Linked DNA regions of Homo sapiens. The protein of the gene in region 3 interacts with the protein of the main gene of each other region in a pairwise test. Each region holds a gene or a part of one and is shown on either strand. Other genes may lie near its edges.

The links. Proteins that work in one complex are often made in the same cells at the same time.
Region 1: the proteins of ZSCAN23 (region 3) and TULP3 interact in a two-hybrid assay, tested with the Homo sapiens proteins (one large-scale study listed by BioGRID and IntAct).
Region 2: the proteins of ZSCAN23 (region 3) and PPARA interact in a two-hybrid assay, tested with the Homo sapiens proteins (one large-scale study listed by BioGRID).

What each region holds. Positions count from the first base shown.
Region 1 is NC_000012.12:2,897,391-2,900,890, forward strand, and holds part of TULP3 (tubby-related protein 3), read left to right. Parts: intron 1-3,500. UniProt on the Homo sapiens protein: Negative regulator of the Shh signaling transduction pathway: recruited to primary cilia via association with the IFT complex A (IFT-A) and is required for recruitment of G protein-coupled receptor GPR161 to cilia, a promoter of PKA-dependent basal repression machinery in Shh signaling.
Region 2 is NC_000022.11:46,234,026-46,237,525, reverse strand, and holds part of PPARA (peroxisome proliferator-activated receptor alpha), read right to left. Parts: intron 2,394-3,500; coding exon 2,146-2,393; 3' UTR 1-2,145. UniProt on the Homo sapiens protein: Ligand-activated transcription factor. Key regulator of lipid metabolism. Activated by the endogenous ligand 1-palmitoyl-2-oleoyl-sn-glycerol-3-phosphocholine (16:0/18:1-GPC). Activated by oleylethanolamide, a naturally occurring lipid that regulates satiety.
Region 3 is NC_000006.12:28,436,992-28,440,491, forward strand, and holds part of ZSCAN23 (zinc finger and SCAN domain-containing protein 23), read right to left. Parts: exon of another isoform or gene 3,084-3,500; intron 1-3,083. UniProt on the Homo sapiens protein: May be involved in transcriptional regulation.

The sequences.
Region 1 (3,500 bases), on a different chromosome or scaffold from region 3:
ATTATGATGAAATCATTAGTCTTCTCACTGAAGTGAAGATTAAGGTAACACATTCATTTGTAGTATTAAGAAGTATTGTAAAACAAAAATCTTCCCAGGCACAGTGGTTCAGGCCTATAATCCTAGCACTTAGGGAGGCTGAGGCAGGAGGAAGGAGATCACTTGAGGCCAGTAGCTCAAGACCAGCCTGGGCAACATAGTGAGACCCCCTGTCTGTCTGTTGGTCTGTCATGTTCGTTTGTTCTCTCTCTCAAGACATAGGGTCTTGCTGTATTGCCCAGGCTAGTCTTGAACTCGGGCCTCAAGTGATTCTCCCACCTCGGCCTCCCAAAATGCTGGAAAGGCATGAGCCACTCTGCCTGGCCCGAGACCCTGTCTCTTAAAAAAAAAAAAAAAAAAAATTCTAGGCCCAGTGCGGTGGCTCATGCCTGTAATCCCAGCACTTTGGGAGGGCAAGGCAGGCAGATCACCTGAGGTTAGGAGTTAGAGACCAGCCTGGGCAGCATGGTGAAACCCTGTCTCTACTAAAAATACAAAATTAGCCAGGTGTGGTGGCGCATGCCTGTGATCCCAGCTACTTGGGAGGCTGAGGCATGAGAATCACTTGAACATGGGAGGCAGAGGTTATAGTGAGCCAAGATCGCGCCATTGCACTCCAGCCTGGGCAACAAGAGCGGAAACTAGATCTCAAAAAAAAAAAAAAAAAAAGATATAATAGCAGTTGCAGTTTGAGTGCTTACTATGAGCCAAGTTTCATTTAATCTTCACAATAACCTTCTGAGTTAAGTGTCATTGTCCTCACTTTGTAAATTAGGAAACTTGAGGCTTTACTAGGTTAAGTTGTACTGGGAACTGTGCTGTAACCACATAGCACACGTCTCTAAATGGGGACTTACAATTAGTTTGAACTAATATAGGCCAAGCCAGGGGTCAGCAGACCTTTTTAATTATTTTTTTTCAGATGGGGTCTTGCTTTGTTGCCCAAGCTGGTCTTGAACTGCTGGACTTAAGCCATCTTCCCGCCTCAGCCTCCCTAGCAGCGGGGACTATAGGCATGCACCATCACCCCTGGCCAGTAGTCCTTTTCTGCGAAGGTCTTAACCAAACGTTTTTGGTTTTGTGGGCCATACAGTCTCTGTCCCAGTTGCTCATTACTCAGTTTTGCTGTTGTAGCACAAAAGCAGCCATAGATAATAGGTAAGTGAATGAATGTGTCTATTTCAATAAGACTTTATGGACACTGGAATTTGAAGACTTTTTTCTTTTTATTCATTACTTCCTGCACAGTGATAATTTCTTTTGGGCTGGGGGGACAGGTTCTCACTATGTGCCCAGGCTGAGTGCAGTGGTGCAGTCGTAGCCCACAACAGCCTTGAACTCCTGGGTTCAAGCAGTCCTCCTTCCTCTGCCTCCTGAGTAGCTGGGATTACAGGTGTGCACCACCACACCTGGCTAATTTTTAAATTTTTTGTAGAGACGGGTCTCACTATGTTGCCCAGGCTGGTCTCAAACTCCTGGCCTCAAGCAGTCTGCCCACATAGGCATCGCAAAGTGCTGGGATGACAGGCATGAGTCACTGCACCTGGTTGGAATTTGAATTTAATATAATTTTTACATGTCTCAAAATATTATTCTTCAGATATTTTTAACCTTTTAAAAATGTGAAATTCATAGGCTGGGCACAGTGGCTCACGCCTGTAATCCCAGCACTTTGAGAGGCTCATGCGGGTGGGTCACCTGAGGTCAGGAGTTAGAGACCAGCCTGACCAACATGGAGAAACCATGTATCTACTAAAAATACAAAATTAGCCGGGCATGGTGGCCCATGCCTGTAATCCCAGCTACTCGGGAGGCTGAGGCAGGAGAATCGCTTGAACCCAGGAGGCTGAGGTTGTGGTGAGCTGAGATCACGCCATTGCAATCCAGCCTGGGCAACAAGAGCGAAACGACGTCTCAAAAAAAAAAAAAAAAAAACAGCGAAATTCATTCTTAGCTCAAAGGCAGTACAAAAACTGACGGCAGGCCAGATTTGGCCCACACGCTATAGTTTGCAGCCCCTGTGCTAAATCATAAAAGTATTTTTTCCTGGAAGGTCATAGTTATTCATACTGTGAATATTATTTAAGAGAGCATTGAAGATTGTTTTTATATTAAAATGGAACCCGTTACCTTATGGAATAAAACCCAGAATTTAATTTTCAAGATAAAACTTGGAGGCGGGGGCCGGGCGTGGTGGCTCACGCCTGTAATCCCAGCACTTTGGGAGGCCAAGGTGGGCGGATCACGAGGTCAGAAGTTCGAGACCATCCTGGCTAACACAGTGAAACCCTGTCTCTACTAAAAATACAAAAAATTAGCCGGGTGTGGTGGCAGGTGCCTGTAGTCTTAGTTACTCGGGAGGCTGAGGCAGGAGAATGGCATGAACCCAGGAGGCGGAGCTTGCAGTGAGCAGAGCTCATGCCACTGCACTCCAGCCTGGGCGACAGAGCGAGACTCCGTCTCAAAAAAAAAACAAACAAAAAAAAAAACAAAAAAAACTTGGAGACGGCTGTGGTGGCTCACATCTGTAATCCCAGCACTTTGGGAGGTTGAGGCAGGCGCGTCACCTGAGATCACGAGTTCGAGACTAGCCTGGCCAATGTGTTGGAACCCCGTCTCTACTAAAAATACAAAAAAAATAAAAAATTAACCAGGCGTGGTCGCACTCCTGTGTTCCCAGCTACAGGGGAGGCTGAGGCAGGAGAATAGCTTGAACCTGGGAGGAAGAGGTTGTAGTGAGCCGAGATCGCGCCACTGTACTCCAGCCTAGCGACAGAGCAAGACTCTGTCTCAGAAACAAAAACAAAAAAACTTGGATTCTAAAGATACGTTGTTCTGTAGATGGTCTCTGGACCGTACTTTCCTCCTTTCTCCTCAATTTCATTTAGAGCATAAAAGCACTTTCTTAGGCTGTTTGAAGCACTTGGATTGGAAATGTTGCCTGCAGTAACCTGTATAAACATCAATATATCAATAACAGATTATTAGTGCAAAATTTAAATGTCCAAAAACTGAAAGGGAATAATGATCGGTGACTGGGTCTATGAAATTACAAAAGTAAAGCCTAAGGGAGATGGCAAGCTTTCCTATTCTGCTACCCTTGTCAGCTGATGTCTTGGTAGAATTAATAAAGTACTCTTTTTAAACTCAAAAACATCTGTTTTGAATAATACTTTTTTTTTTAACACCCTACCTTTGAGGTAACTATTGTTAATAGTTTGTGTATATCCTTCTGGAATTCTTCTATTCCTGTAGACCTTGCAGATACTTTTTTTTTTTCTACTTGCAGTTATTTTTATTTTTTGTTTTTTGAGAGTGTCTTGCTCTCTCACCCTGGCTGGAGTGTGGCGGTGTGACGATAGCTCAACCTCCTGGGCTCAAGCAATCCTCCCACCTCAGCCTCCCAAGTAGCTGGAACTATAGGCATGCGCAACCAAGCCGAAATACTTTTTTTTTTTTTT
Region 2 (3,500 bases), on a different chromosome or scaffold from region 3:
CCTGGGTTCAAGCAATCCTCCCACCTCAGCCTGCAGAGTAGCTGGGACTACTGATGTGTGCCACCCCGATGAACTAATTTTTAAATTTTGTGTACAGACAGGGTCTTGCTATGTTGCCTAGGCTGGTCTCGAACTCCTGGGCTCAAGTGATCCTCCCACCTCGGCCTCCCAAAGTGCTGGGATTCCATGTGTGAGCCACTGTGCCTAGCCTGATTACAAAAACCAAAACGGACTAAATTTGTAATTTTTAAAAAAGGATGTCCTAACCCTAACTTTCACTTTTTTCTAGTGGAAGTCTCACACTGTGTCCTTCCCACTCTCGCATTTTCATAATGCTGGTCATGGGACCCTTATCAATCCTAATCATTCTTAAAATAATAATGACCTCAGAAGAGCCAAATTTTCTAAAGATGGGGGAGAGGCATCGACGATACCTCCAGGTGCCCAGCGACTCCCTGGAGGCGGTGGTCCTGGCAGTTCCAGTCCAGATCTAAAAATTCTCAACAGGACAATTTATCTACCAGGTGGACAGAGAGAGAAAGTGTTTCCAGGTCCATATATTCTTGACAAACTACCATAATCAACGCTGCCTTCCCAGCTGGACTGAGGTTGGTAAGTTGGTTTTGAAGGCTAAAACAAAAATTTTAGATGTTGAAAAAACTACCTTACATACAAAGGAGACTTAACAACCTAAACCATTGTAAAAAATAACCAACTCTTGTGAAATCTGCCATTTGAAGTAAAACTGCCATTTGAAGAAGACTCTACCCCCTCTCTCGATCCGCAGGGTGACTGGCTCCCACCCAGCCCAGGCTATGAAGACACATGTGCCTCGTCTGCGCTCCAGAGAGCATCTACTGTCACCAAGAGTTAAAACAATAAAACATCATATCTTTAAAAGCAACATAACAAAAGATACGGGAGCTGCCAAATGGGGCCCGGAGGAACACTGACAAGTAAGGTGTCAGTCTGTCCCTAAGAACACCACCATTCCCACAGACAGCTGGACTGGGTGGGTTCAGGTTGACTGGACGGAGCTGAGTGGAGCAGGAAGCTGGCGGGCTTCGGGAGCTTGTCTCGTCCCGCTTACCACGGGTGCTAGCTTATGACAGTCCAGAGCGGGGGTCTTGAGACTCTGTTTTCTGGGCTCTTCTACGCAAACCTGGAAATGGGCCTTTCCACATATTAGTTACAACCACGAAAACAGTGAGCCAAAAACAAAACAACAGCTGCATTTTGATAGCTTATCTAACAGATTTTTTTTTTGTTTGTTTGTTTTTAAGACAGAGTCTCGTTCTGTCACCAGGCTGGAGTGCAGTGGTGCAGTCTTAGCTCACTGCAACCTCCAACTCCCTGGTTCAAGCAATTCTCCTGCCTCAGCTTCCCGAGTAGCTGGGATTACAGGCATGTGCCACCACACCCGGCTAATTTTTGTATTTTTAGTAGAGACAGGGTTTCACCATGTTGGCCAGGATGGTCTCGATCTGCTGACCTTGTGATCCACCCGCCTCGGCCTCCCAAAGTGCTGGGATTACAAGTATGAGCGACTGTGCCTGGCCCAAACAGTTCTTTAAAATTCTCCATCCTATGATTAAAAAGCAGCATGTTGTCTTTCTTTAGATTCAGGAAACAGAAGTGAAGTCTTTGAAATAAATATTTTGCTGCTTTTTACATACTTCACCTTTGGATACATCTAGACTTATAGGATTATAAACATTGTTAAAAAGTGCTGATTAGTTTTCAGAATTATAAAGGAGCACAATAGTCAAAAGCGGGGTGAATGGGAAGACAGGCCACGAATTTTGAGGTTACCAGTTAATTAAATGGTAAATCACGAATGTGATCTAAAGCAATGTGCATTGATTAACATCGGGTGAGTTAAAATCAGACCATTGAGCATAATTCGCCGTAATCTTCCCAGTCCTGAGATTAGCCACCTACCCCCAGCATTTGAGTTCTATGCTCTTAGAAGTACTGGTTAAAACAAAGATATGGAATAATATGCCGGTTACCTACAGCTCAGACTGTCCAAGCTCTAAGGTTAAAGTGGTGGATATTTGTGCAAAATCGTGCTGCTCCCCCGTCTCCTTTGTAGTGCTGTCAGCTTCAGAACTCCTGGAAAAGGTGTGGCTGATCTGAAGGAACTCAGTACATGTCCCTGTAGATCTCCTGCAGTAGCGGGTGCAGCGCAGCATCCGACTCCGTCTTCTTGATGATCTGCACCAGCTGCGCATGCTCCGTCACCAGCTGCCGGAGGTCTGCCATTTTTTGAAGAAGTTTTGGGAAGAGAAAGATATCGTCCGGGTGGTTGCTCTGCAGGTGGAGTCTGAGCACATGTACAATACCCTCCTGCATTTTTTCAATGTGTCCTACGTTTAGAAGGCCAGGACGATCTAGTCTCGAAAGAAGAGAGAGAGGTTTGAGTGTGATAATCACCCAAGAACTGCTTATCAGTTTCAGGAACCAAACATGCCTATTTTATGTGGCCTTTCTTAGAAAAAAACTGAGCTGCCTTTAGATATTGTCAACTTGACTGGAAGATAGACATAGGTTTTTCCAAAGTCAATAGGTGAAGTAGGGACAGACAGGACCAGTACTCTTTCCTAAATATTCATACTACTAGGCGGCAATAGTGCCCTAAGTACACCTTATGGTGCGGCCTTTTCACTTGTGATTTACCTGATGACCACCTGTCAGGGAGAAAAATTAGAGCTAGTAGGAGGAACAGTACATTCTGGAGATCACAACCACCAGTTTTGCATAATATGGGAAATGAAGCTTTTGAATCCAAACTAGATATCAAGCTTCAAGTGTTCCACCATATTTAAGGAGTGATTGTGTTAGAACTAGGTTTTGTAGGCCAGGCACGGTGGCTCACGCCTGTAATCCCAGATACTCGGGAGGCTGAGGTGGGAGAATCGCTTGAACCTGGGAGACGGAGATTGCAGTGAGCCAAGATCAGGAGACCCAGAGTGGGGAGGAGGGTGGGGCAGGTCTGAGACTTGGTGCAGGAAGAGTCAACATTCACACCAGATGACCTGCCTGGGGTAGCTGGCACTAGACATCCTGGGACAGTCTCAAAGCATGAGACCTGATTCTTGGTCCAGAAAATACTGCCCTGAGCCATGTTCAGCAGGCGGTGCTCCCTTACAGACCCAGTCATTACTATGATTCTTAACAGGGTTGCTAGTGATGAGGATTTAAACATCTTCATTGTTTTTGGTTGTAAATGTAATTATTAAGTTTTTATTTCTAAAATTCTTGTTTTTGTATTGTTTTAGTGATGGGGTCTTGCTCTGTTGCTTAGGCTGGACTGGAACTCCTAGGCTCAAGCAATCCTCCTGCCTCGGCCTCCAGAGTGGCTGGGGCTATAACTATTAAGTCTCTAAAGAGAGGAATTATTGCCGGGTGCAGTGGCTCATGCCTGTAATCCCAGCACTTTGGGAGGCCGAGGTGGGTGGGTCACCCGGGGTCAGGAGTTTGAGACCAGCCTGGCCAAT
Region 3 (3,500 bases):
ACTGCCTATCTTTCTAGGTTGATACAAAGATAAAACGAGGATAATGAGCACAAAGAAGTTGGCTACTTAGTAAACTCCAAAGTGGTAACACTTATTTTTCTTATGTTATTGTATGATTAAATGAATATCCTAGTGGTTTAAGGCTAAGGCAAAAGAATCAGAAAGTAGTTGACTGCAGTGGTCTAGGCTCAGAGATACTAAAATGACGGAAATATTGGTTCCAGTACTTTAAAACAGGAGTAGAATTTGACCTTTCTCTTGCCCTTTAATTTCTTTGAAACTTTTTCTCTTTGAAGCTACTTGAAGGTGGAGAGTAGGCAATTTTATGTAAAATAAAATTACTGCTAATAAAAAGACAAATGTCTATGACTCCTGAGGTCAGGAGTTCGAGAATAGCCTGGCCAACATGATGAAACCCCGTCTCTGCTAAAAAATACAAAAATTAGCTGGGCTTGGTGGCACACGCCTGTTATCCCAGCTACTCAGGAGGCTGAGGCTGGAGAATCGCTTGAACCCGGGAGGCAGAGGTTGCAGTGGACTGAGATCACACTACTGCACTCTAGCCTGGGCGACAGAGCAAGACTCTGTCTCAAAAAAACAAAAACAAAAACAAACAAACTTATGAGCAATCTTTACCAGGATAGTAATTAATGAAGAAAATTTTCTGAAAGAAAAACAATTATATGACCCAGTGATTTCTAAGCACCATCTTCGAGTAGAGACTTTCAAACTTTTTTGACCAGGACTCTTATTAAGAAATATTTTATATTATAACCCAGAACACACATGCATATGTATATATGTTTGTGCATTTATGAGATACACAAATACCTAAAATAATAATTTCACAAAACACTATGTATCCTTGCTCTATATAGTGACATACAATTATTTTTAAACCTATTTCATTAAAAGACAAAACAAAAAAGCCTGGGAACAGATTTTGTGGGTTATAAAATCTATGTGGTGGGTTGTGACACACCACATAGATTTTATGACCCACAAATGAATAATAACCTGTAGAATAAAATATTTTTGTTTTAAGTAAAATTGTTGTAATCCATTGCAAAAATAACCCTACTCTATTCTGTTTGTTGTTTTTTGTTTTTGTTTTTGTTTTTTTGAGAAGGAGTCTTGCTCTGTTGCCCAGGCTGGAGTACAGTGGCACAATCTCAGCTCACTGCAACCTCCGCCTCCTGGGTTCAAGCAATTCTCCTGCCTCAGCCTCCTGAGTAGCTGGTATTACAGGCACCCACTACCATGCCAGGCTAATTTTTGTATTTTTAGTAGAGACAGGGTTGTACCATGTTGGCCAGGCTGGTCTCGAACTCCTGACCGCAGATGATCCACCCGCCTTGGCCTCCCAATGTGCTGGGATTACAGGCATTAGCCACCGCGCCCAGCAACCCTACACTATTCTTAAGGTGTTGACATGCATTGTGAAATTAAATAACTAAGAATAGGGTATTTTATTAGTCTGTTCTCAAGCTGCTACTAAAGACATACCCAAGACTGGGTAATTTATAAAGGAAAGAGGTTTAATTGACCCACAGTTCAGCATGGCTGGGGAGGCCTCAGGAAACTTACAATCATGGTGGAAGGGGAAGCAAACATGTCCTTCTTCACATGCAGCAGCAGGAGAAGTGCCGAGCAAAAGGGGGAAAAGCCCCTTATAAAACCGTCAGATCTCATGAGAACGCACTGTCACCAGAATAGCATGAAGGTACCTGCCCCCATAATTAAATTGTCTCCTACCGGGTCCCTCCCACGACACATGGGGATTATGAGAAATTGGGAACTATAATTCAAGATGAGATTTGGATGGGGACACAGCCAAACCATATCAGGTATTTAAATTACAAGTGAACACTGATCACATTACAACCCGAAGAAAAATTAGATTCATATTGTGATTATTGGTTATATTTATCAAAGGGGAAACAAACTACTGGCATGGGACAGCATCCTTCCGGATAACCTGCACACATAATCCTCTCCATAAAGTTCTGACATCTTTGGTTTGGTTACCTTCTGTAATCACTACCCCAGGAAATGTACAGAGGATTTTTTTCCTCTAAAGACAGAATCTGCAAATTCATGTTTTCCCCCACTTTTTTTTTTTTTGAGACGGAATCTCACCCTGTCGCCCAGGCTGGAGTGCAACAGCACGATCTCAGCTCACTGCTTCCCAGGTTCAAATGATTCTCCCCTCAGCCTCCTGAGTAGCTGGGATTACAGGCACCCGCTACCATGCCTAGCTAATTTTTGTATTTTTTTGGTAGAGACAGGGTTTCACCATGTTGGCCAGGCTGGTTTCGAACTCCTGACCTCGTGATCTGCCTGCCTCAGCCTCCCAAACTGCTGGGATTACAGGTGTGAGCCACCACGCCCAGCCTTCCTCCACTTTTCTTGGTGCGACTCACCACCACTGTGACTACCATACTATCTTTTTCTGTCATAACTTTTCATACACCATTCATTCACTTGGCAGATATTTATTCAGAGCCTACCAGCAAATATATATTCAGAGCCTACCATATTCCATGTACTGTTCTAGGCACTGGGGATACAGCTGCAATTATAACGAAGTCCCTAGTCTCATGGAATTTACATCCTAATAACAGTATTAATAATAGCGGACATTTATAGTGCTTTTAACGTGCCAGGTATTGTTACAGATGCTTTATATATATTAACCCATTTAATCCTCAAAACAACCATGAATAAGGTGCTATTATTACCCCCATATCACAGATGAGAAAACTGAGATATGAAAAGTTTAAGTTACTAGTCCAAAGTTCAAGTCAGTTACAGATAGTAAGCAGTGAAGCTGCAATTCAAACCCAACAAATCTGACATCAGAATTTACAGTCTCCACTGCTACAACACTAACTTCTGTTGGGGAAAAGAGGGGCCAGGATGAGGAAAACGGGTCAGAGGAAACAGATAATAATTAAGTATTTGTGAAGTAGTGATAAATGCTATAGAGAAAATAAAGGTAAGGAGAGAGAGAGTAAGGGGAAAGAAAGGTTGCTATTTTATAGAGTCAGGGAAGGCCTTGATAAGGTAATGGTTGAACAGACCTGAAGGAAGTGAGGAGCAAGTCACATGGCTATCTGGAGAAAGACTGTTCCATGCAAAGGTAACTGCCAAGTGCAAATTTTTGCAGGTGGGAACACACCTGGATTCTTCAGGTAATAGCTAGTTGAACAATGGCTGGAACAAAGAAAACAAAAGGGAAAGTAACAGGAGATAAAGCAGGGAGCTTGGGAACTGATCATGAAAGGCAGTGGTAAGGGCTCTAACTTGTATTCTATGAGATATGGAAACCACTGGGGATTTTTGAGCCAAGGGGTAACAAAATTTTACTTCCATTTAACACAAAAGCATAACTCTAGCCGCTGTGTCAATGACCTTGGGGTTAAGTGGAGGCAGAGAGGGATGCTATGATAATCATCCAGGGAAGAGATCATCATGGCTTGAAACATGATCTGCTGAAT